Linked DNA regions of Homo sapiens. The protein of the gene in region 1 interacts with the protein of each later gene in a pairwise test. Each region holds a gene or a part of one and is shown on either strand. Other genes may lie near its edges.

Region 1 (4,324 bases):
AACTGAGGCCTGGAGCAGCTCAGAAATGTCAAAGAACACACAGCTGAAAGTGGCTAATTCAGAACCCCAATGGATTGGCCTGGCTAACTACAACCTGGCCTTCCCAGCTCAGAAGGAAGGAAGGGCTCTGAGGGGAGTACTGGGGGAAAGAGGCTTCCACACTGCCTGTCACAGTGCTGTGGACTGGGCCAGAGGAGGGGCCTCCCAGGGAGCCAGGGGTGAGGAGGAAGGGGCAGGGCTCTGCTTCCAATGGGGGCTCTTCCCCTTCCTGTGCATGTACTCACAGGTGGACCCCTAACTTCTTTGAGCCTCAGTTTCTTCAATCTGCAAAACAGAAATAAATCCCCACCCTGCAGGGTTGTTGTGAAGACCAAATGTGACAGCATGTGCACTGTCTGCAATAGTGTTTGTTAACAATAATCTTCTCTTTCCCCTCCCATCAAGAGCAGCTTAAGTTCATGGTATAACAAGTATTAGTACTGGGGGCCAGAGAGGCCCTTTTCAGAAGCCATCAAGACACCCCAAAGGTTAGCCTCCTCTAGCTTCCCATCCTCGCTACCTTCATCCCATCCTAGGACCAGGTCACCATCAGTGTCCCCAGTCTCCCTATCACCAAACTAGGTTTCCCAGAGCCTATTTTAAATGTTAACCTAGGAGGCTACGCATGCATACAAGTCTAGAGTCTGCACTTTAAATGCCCAGAATGGCACACCCACCCTGCCTTTATAACAACACAGAAGGTTCTGGTTTTGCCCTAAAGGGACCCTCGGAAGATCTTTTAGGACAAGATAAAGAACAGGCATACAGAAGTATCCAAGACCTCTAGTATTCTTTGAACGATACCTTAATGTTCTCTCTCCTGCCCCATTTGATGCCGAAGTTGCTATGGTTGTGGCCGATGTCCCGTGGCCAATGCCAGGCTGTCCTGCTGCCTCAGGTTCCACCTGTCAGCAACTGGAAGATCAACCACCTATGTAGCAATCAACCAATGTCATTTTGAGTAAAAGCCCCCAGTTCTCAGACACTTCCAGACTAGCCCAAACATAGAGACCTTTGAGTCAACGTACAGAGTCCAGCTCCCGCCATGCTGCCACAGCAGAGGAGCCCAGGCCTTTGGGATATGCCCAGGGGACTACCAAGACCACCACAAGTGGGCTCCATCTCAGACAACACTGTGGCATCCATCTAAGTCCCCTCTTGGTTTTGTTCGTTCGTTTGTTTGTGAGACAGAGTCTCGCTCTGTCTCCCAGGCTCGAGTACAATGGCTCAGTCTCGGCTCACTGCAACCTCTGCCTCCTGGGTTCACGTGATTCTCTTGTCTTAGTCTCCCGGCAGCTGGGATTACAGGCGTGCACCTCGGCGCCCAGCTAATTTTTGTATTTTTAGTAGAGATGGGGTTTTCGCCATGTTGGCCAGGCTGGTCTCGAACTCCTGACCTTAGGTGATCCACCTGCCTCGGCCTCCCAAAGTGCTGGGATTACAGGCATGAGCCACAGCGCCTGGCCCAAGTCCCCTCTAGTTAAGTGGCAAGCATTTGGATGATGACTTATGTGTCCGGCAAAACCAAAACAGGAAAAGCAAACCTATATGATCAGGCAGGAAAACTGGTTCTATGTTAAAATATGGACCTTACCTCTCAAGGACCAGGCAGGAATGCACACAGCACAAACCCCCATTGCACAGTGGGGATACAGCACCCTCCAGGAGGTGGTTTAATCCACCCCAGAGTGAACGGGGCCTGATAGGAACACTCAGGGCCAACTCTGGGCAAAGCAGCAGGCAGCATTCCTAAAGGGAGGGTTTGGAGGAGACAAAACCTGCCCTTCACAATGAACGTGCCTTAAGGGCTACATGCCCCGGGTCACAAGCTGTGCCAGGAAAGGGTTCTGGGGTAACTGTGGGGTCAGTGGCCCCATGGATGAGGCTCTGCTCACCAGGAAGAGGCCTAGGCGCCCAACAGCCCCTGAGCTTCCTCCCCTGGGGAGGATTTGCCCACAATCCCTGGGGGGCACCTAGGTGGAGAGGGTGCCCCGGCCTAGAAGCAGCCTAGGCGGCCGGTGTGTCCCTATCTGCACGCTCACAAGCACTCATGCCCCAGCCTGGGACACACAGGCCCGTATGCAGTAACAGCGTCTACCCAGCTGCACTCTGCACGCCAAGCACAGGCCGCCCCTGCTGCGGGGCCAAAGGCCTGAAAGCACCGCACCACGCAGCCTCGCCCAGAATAGCTCCCCTCCCGCCCCTCCTGCACAAAGCCCACCCGGACTTAGGGAGAAGGGGGCTCAATACGGGCCCGAAACGAGGCTACAGACCTTCTCAGGAGCAAAGGCAGCGACTGCAGGCAAATGGGGCTGTGGGCCGGGGTAATGATGCGGGACAGGAGAAGCCAAAGGGCAGCAAGGCTGGGGGCGGGGTAGGCGGCGCAGTAGGCTGAGGGAGGGGAAAAGGAAGAAGGGGAGAGGGAGGAGCGATGGCAGCAGGGGTGGAGGCCGAAGGAGACAGGGTCCCGGACAGACTTGTGAAAATGGGAGGATGGGCAGAGGAGACGTAGAAGAGGGGACAGGACAGGACAATGAGAGGCGGAGCGCGGGGAGTGCGATGCGGCCACCGGGGGCTCTGGGCGCTGGGCAGGGGCCAGGATGCCGGGGGTCTGAGCGCAGGCAGCGGGAAGGAGTGGGTTCTGAGGCTCAGCAAGGGGGAGGTGCCGCCCACCACGCCCCCCGCCCCAACGGGAGCGCGCGGAGCCAGCCTCTCACCCTCTCGCCCGCCGGGGCCGCGCAGGCGGGGGAAGCGCTGCTCCTGCGGCCGCCACAGGTGCCAGGTGCCGCGGCCCAAGATGGAGCCAGAGCCGACCTGGCCTGGGCGCGAGACGCCGCCCGCCGCCGTCGGCCCGGCCCGCGGAGCAAGCGCCGGGTACAGGGAGGGGCCAGCGGGGCAGCTGGCACCGGGGCGGCGGGAGGGGCGGCGGGCGGAGACCTCGCTCACCTGGGCCCGTGCCACTCTGGAGCCTGCCACCGCCCCGCCGCGGCCCGGGATCTGCGTCCGCGCGCCCCCACCCCTCCTTCCCGACCCCTCCTCAGGCCGGGTCCCCACTGTCCTCGGTCTTTTCGGCCCCGCCCGCACCACGACCGCCTGTTCTCCAGGCTGCCCAGCGAACCCCCAAGACTCCCACTTCCCCGACGCAACCCCACCGTCCCGGGTGTATAGGCGCAGCTCCCCACGATTCTCCGGCCCCAGACCCAGCCCCTCAAGTCCACCTCCTCGTAGCCCCACCCCCTCGCTCCAGTGCCCCTCGCTCCAGTTCCCCCTCCGCACCACGCCCCGCATTGAGGTCTCCGCGCCGGCGGCTACCCCTTTCCTCTCGCCTTCTCCATCCTAGCTCCGCCTCTCACAATTCTCTGGCTCCAGATCCCGCCCACGAGACCCCGTTTCCTATAGGGCCCTTTCGTCTGGGATACCAGGCCTGGTCTCCACTAGCCTCGGACTTTCCAGCCCCAGGTCCCAAATCCTGGACCCACCGTCCCATCCTCTGAGCTCCACTCTCATGGACCCCAAACCTCACTCCAGTCCTTTGAACTCCATGATCCTGGCCTGGCCTGGCCCCCGGAGCCCTCCATTGCCCCTCAAGAGCCCAGCCTGGTAGACTCCTTCCCTAGGGTTGCATCTCCAGCCCCGCCCCTGAAGACTGGTAATCTACCACCCCTTTCCCTGCCCACGTGCCCCTACCCAGCCCGACTTGAGGCCTTCAGTCTCCCAGCCGCGGACCCCAACAGCGGGCGAGGGCAGTGACCGTGCGGGGATGAGCCACCTCCACTGGAGCCCGCCTTCTTCTCCGCAATTCCCCGCAGCACCACAGCGCCTTCCCGGTCCCGTGACGCCGGGGGCCAGCCCAGGCCCTGGGATCGCCAGGTTCCACACTATGAGGCTGAGGACCTGGGCCTACGGTTCCCTCAATATCCCCCAGTTTCCACAACCGCTGGCCAGCTTCAGGGCGCAGGACAGGCAGCCCCGGCCTCCCGCCACTCGCAATAGATTCCTGCTGTCCACCCAGGGCCACGTGGTATGAGGCACCTGTACTATCTCTGGGCCCCAGTATCACATAATTGGGTCCCAATGTTGGCACTTCTCCGTTGTCCCCTGTGCCGGGACCCCCAACTTGTTGGCCCAGCCCTGTGCTGAGAGGCCTGCGTTCCTCCCTTCCAGTGCCCAGGAGCCAACAGTATCTCTAATTCTCCCCGTTTGGGTAGCAAAGGACCTCAGTCTGCCCAGAGAGACTCAGACTGCCCCAGGTAGCCCTCTCCAGCGAGGTCTGAGAGCAGCTCTC
Region 2 (3,809 bases), on another chromosome or scaffold:
TTGCTCTTTTGATACTATCCCATAAACCCTATAAAGTTTCTTTATTCCTTTCCACTCTTTTTCCTTTCTTCTCCTCTGTATATTTTCATATAACCTGTCTTCAAGTTTACAGATTCTTTTTCTGATTGATCAATCCTGCTCTTGATGCTCTCTATTACATTTTTACATTCATTGTATTTTTCAGCTCCAAAATTGGTCTGATTTTATTATTTCAATTTATCTGGTAAATTTCTCATCTGACCATTTATTATTTTCCTAATTTTGTTGACTTGTTTCTCTGTATTTTCTGAAGTTCTTTGAGCTTCTTTAAAACAGCTGTTTTGAATTCCTTGGCAGATAGTTGATATATCTGTGTCTTTAGGGTCTATGACTGGCATCTTATTTTGTCTGTTTAGTGATGTCATGATTCCCCGATTGTTCTTGTGGTCATGTGTCAGTGTGTGTGCATTCAAGAAGCAGTTACTTATTCCAGCCCTCACAATCTGGCTTTGTCTGGGAACATCCTCTAACAGTAAGCCTGTCCAGAGATTCTAGGCAGGTCATTTGGTGTGGTCTCCGAGCCTGTGACCACTGCAGCCCTTCCAGCTCTAGGGAGTGCTATGTACTCCCTACTGTGACCAGCACAGTGCCACGCTGAAATCCCGTAGTCACTGAAGCTGACTTAGCACTGGGATGGAATCCTGTGGCTGCTGAGGCTGGTGCAGCACTTGGGTGCACCCAAAGCCCACAGCTGCTGAGGCTACTGCAGCACTGGGGTACATCTGAAGCTTGCAGCCACTGAGGGGGCCTGCCTGTTGCTGTGGGTTATTTGGATCCCAAGACCACTGTAGTTGGCTGATGGTGATGTGGGCTGGAACTCAAGTTTGTCTCACAGGGGCTATGGTTTCCCATCTGCTGCCGGGATGGGTCTAGAGTCTCAGTCTGCAGTTACTGGCCTGAAGTCATGGGTCATGGGGGGGTCTACCCAGTGCTGAGTTTTACTGTGACAGGCCTGGTATTGGGGTCCAAGGCAAAGTCTTACCTTTACTTTCCTCTCTTCCTCCCAAGCAGACAATATCTTTTTCCGGGCTGTGCTGCCTGGTCTTGGGGGAAGGGTGACATGGGTAATGTAAAACTGTTCTTCCTACCTACTTAAATGTGTCTTTTCTTATTATTATGCTATAACCAGGTGCTATAATCTCTCACCTGGTTTCCTTAGCTCTCGTGAAGGTATTTTATACATAGATAGTTGTTCAAATTCATATTTCTCTGTGGGAAAATTGCTGGAGAGTCCTATTCCACCATCTTGCTCTACTTTCCTCTGTGAGAATGTTTTGGATGAGATTGATACTTGAATTGGCAGAGTGAGTAAAGCAGATTGCCCTCAGTGTGGTTGGCCCTCATTCAATCAGATGAGGGCCCAAATAGAACAAAACTTGACCCACTGATGAATAAGAGGGAACTCCTCCTCCCTAAGTTCCTTGAGCTGGGATATTCATCTTTTCTTGCCTTTGGACTTGAACTGAAATATCAGCTCTTCTTAGGTGTAGAGCCTAGTGACTTTCAGACTGAAAAGATACTATCAGCTCTCCTTGGTCTCCAGCTTGTTTACTATAGGTCTTAGCCTCCATAATTTTGTAAATAAATAAATAGGCTGGGCACGGTGGCTCATGCCTGTAATCCCAGCACTTTGGGAGGCTGAGGCGGGTTGATCATGAGGTCAGGAGTTCGAGGCCAGCCTGGCCAAGACAGTGAAACCCTGTCTTTACTAAAAATACAAAAATTAGCTGGGTGTGGTGGTGGGCGCCTGCAATTCCAGCTCTCTCTCTCTCTATATATATATACATACACACACACACACACACACACACACACACACACATATATATATATATATTTTTTTTTTTTTTGAGTCTCACTCTTATAGCCCAGGCCAGAGTGCAGTGGCGTGATCTCGGCTCACTGCAACTTCCGCCTCCTGGGTTCAAGCGATTCTGCCTTAGCCTCCCGAGTATCTGGGATTGCAGGTACCCACCACTGTGCCCAGCTAATTTTTGTATTTTTAGTAGAGACGGGGTTTCACCATATTGGCCGGGCTGGTGTTGAACTCCTGACCTCAGGCGATCTACCCACCGCAGCCTCCCAAAGTGCTAGGATTACAGGCGTGAGCCACCACACCCAGCCTAAATATATATTTGTATATATTTAATTAAATATATGCATAAATATATATGTACATAGCTTACATCTATCTATCTATCTATCTATCTATCTATCTATCTATCTATCTACCTATTTTATCTGTCTATAATTAGTCTTGTTTCTCTGAAGAACCCTAATACAGATTTTGGTACTAGGAATGGGGTGCTAATGTAACAGAAAAATACCTAAACAAATGGAATTAGCTTTGGAACTGATTGATGGGTACAGGCTGGAAGATTTTTGAGGTGCCTGCTAGAAAAAGCCAACATTGTTGTGAGGGAAGTGTTGGTAGAAATATGGATATTAAAAGAAATTTTGGTGAGGGGTCAGAAAGTAAAGAGGAGAGCTAGAAACAAAGCTTCCATTTTCTTAGAGAATACATAAATACATGAACAGAATATTCATTCAAATGTGGATGTTAAGGGCCATTTTGGTGAGATCTCAGATACAAATAAAGAACAGACAGTTGGAAACTGGAAGGTGATCTTTATTATAAAGTAGCAAAGAATATGGCTGCATTGTGTCCTAGTGTTGTGCAAGGTAGAACTTGCAAGTGATGAAATTGGATACATAGCAGAGGAGATATCTAAGTAAAGTATCAAAGGTACCCCTTGGGTCCTCCTTGCTGCTTATAGTAAAATGCAAGAGGAGAGAGGTGAATTGAAGAAGGAATGGTTAGGAAAAAGGAGCCAGAACATGGAGATTGGGTACAACTCATGGACTTAATCAGCCATCTCATCAGAAGCCAAGAATAGAGATGGGATTTTACCAGCAGAAACACTGCTGGCTGAGACTAAGGAAACAGAAAAAATGAGACAGGATGAAGGAAAGCTATCAGACTTAGATTTTACAGGATGGGACCATAGAGCTATTTGGCTCTGAAAATACTTTATCCTTCAAGAAAAGGGAAGACTGACTCCAACAGCAATTCAGAAATCCTCAGGGCTGCCAGTCCCACTACAGGCCCAGGGAGTAGGTCTGAATCCTTCTGTTTTTCAAAGAGTGGGTGTGCCCTTCCAGTTTTGGTGGGTCAGGAACCCTTGCCTACTATATCAGGGTCAGGGTCAGGTTTGCCCTAGCAGAGAGCTTGTGGACTGGCCTTACTCCTTAAGCTGAAGGGGCAAGGCTACCCTGTAGAGCTGTGAGAATGATACTACCACCCGAGAGGGCCTGGGGGGCAGAGAGTTGAACCCAAGAGGGTTATTCTCTAGCTTTAAGATCCAAAGGAATTTTCCTTGCTAGATTTTGGACTTGTTACAAAAGCCATCACCTCTTCCTTCTTTGCTATTTCTCCCTTTTGGAGTGGGACTGTCTATCCTATGCCTTGTCCCATCATATTTTAGAAGCACATGACTTGTCTGGTTTCACAGGTTCACACCTGCAGAGAATTTTGCCTCAGGATGAATCACACTTCAGTTCTCTCCCATACCTGATTTAGATGATATTTAATGAGACATTGGACCTTAAGCTTTAGAGGTGATGTTGTAATGAGTTAAGACTTTTAGCACATTAGGGTGGGATGAATGATGAATGTATTTTGTATGTAAGAAGGGCATGAATTTTGGAGGCCAGATGCCCCACTCTTAGTACCAAAATCTGTAGTACTCTACAAGTGTTGCTGTAACAAA

What was found.
Region 2: the proteins of GPRIN2 (region 1) and LNP1 interact in a two-hybrid assay, tested with the Homo sapiens proteins (one large-scale study listed by BioGRID).

Annotation. Positions count from the first base shown.
Region 1 is NC_000010.11:46,553,742-46,558,065, forward strand, and holds the start of GPRIN2 (G protein-regulated inducer of neurite outgrowth 2), read right to left. Parts: upstream 2,918-4,324; 5' UTR 2,757-2,917; intron 2,676-2,756; exon of another isoform or gene 2,313-2,675; intron 1,789-2,312; exon of another isoform or gene 1,634-1,788; intron 971-1,633; exon of another isoform or gene 955-970; 5' UTR 844-954; intron 325-843; exon of another isoform or gene 1-324.
Region 2 is NC_000003.12:100,407,732-100,411,540, forward strand, and holds part of LNP1 (leukemia NUP98 fusion partner 1), read left to right. Parts: intron 1-3,809.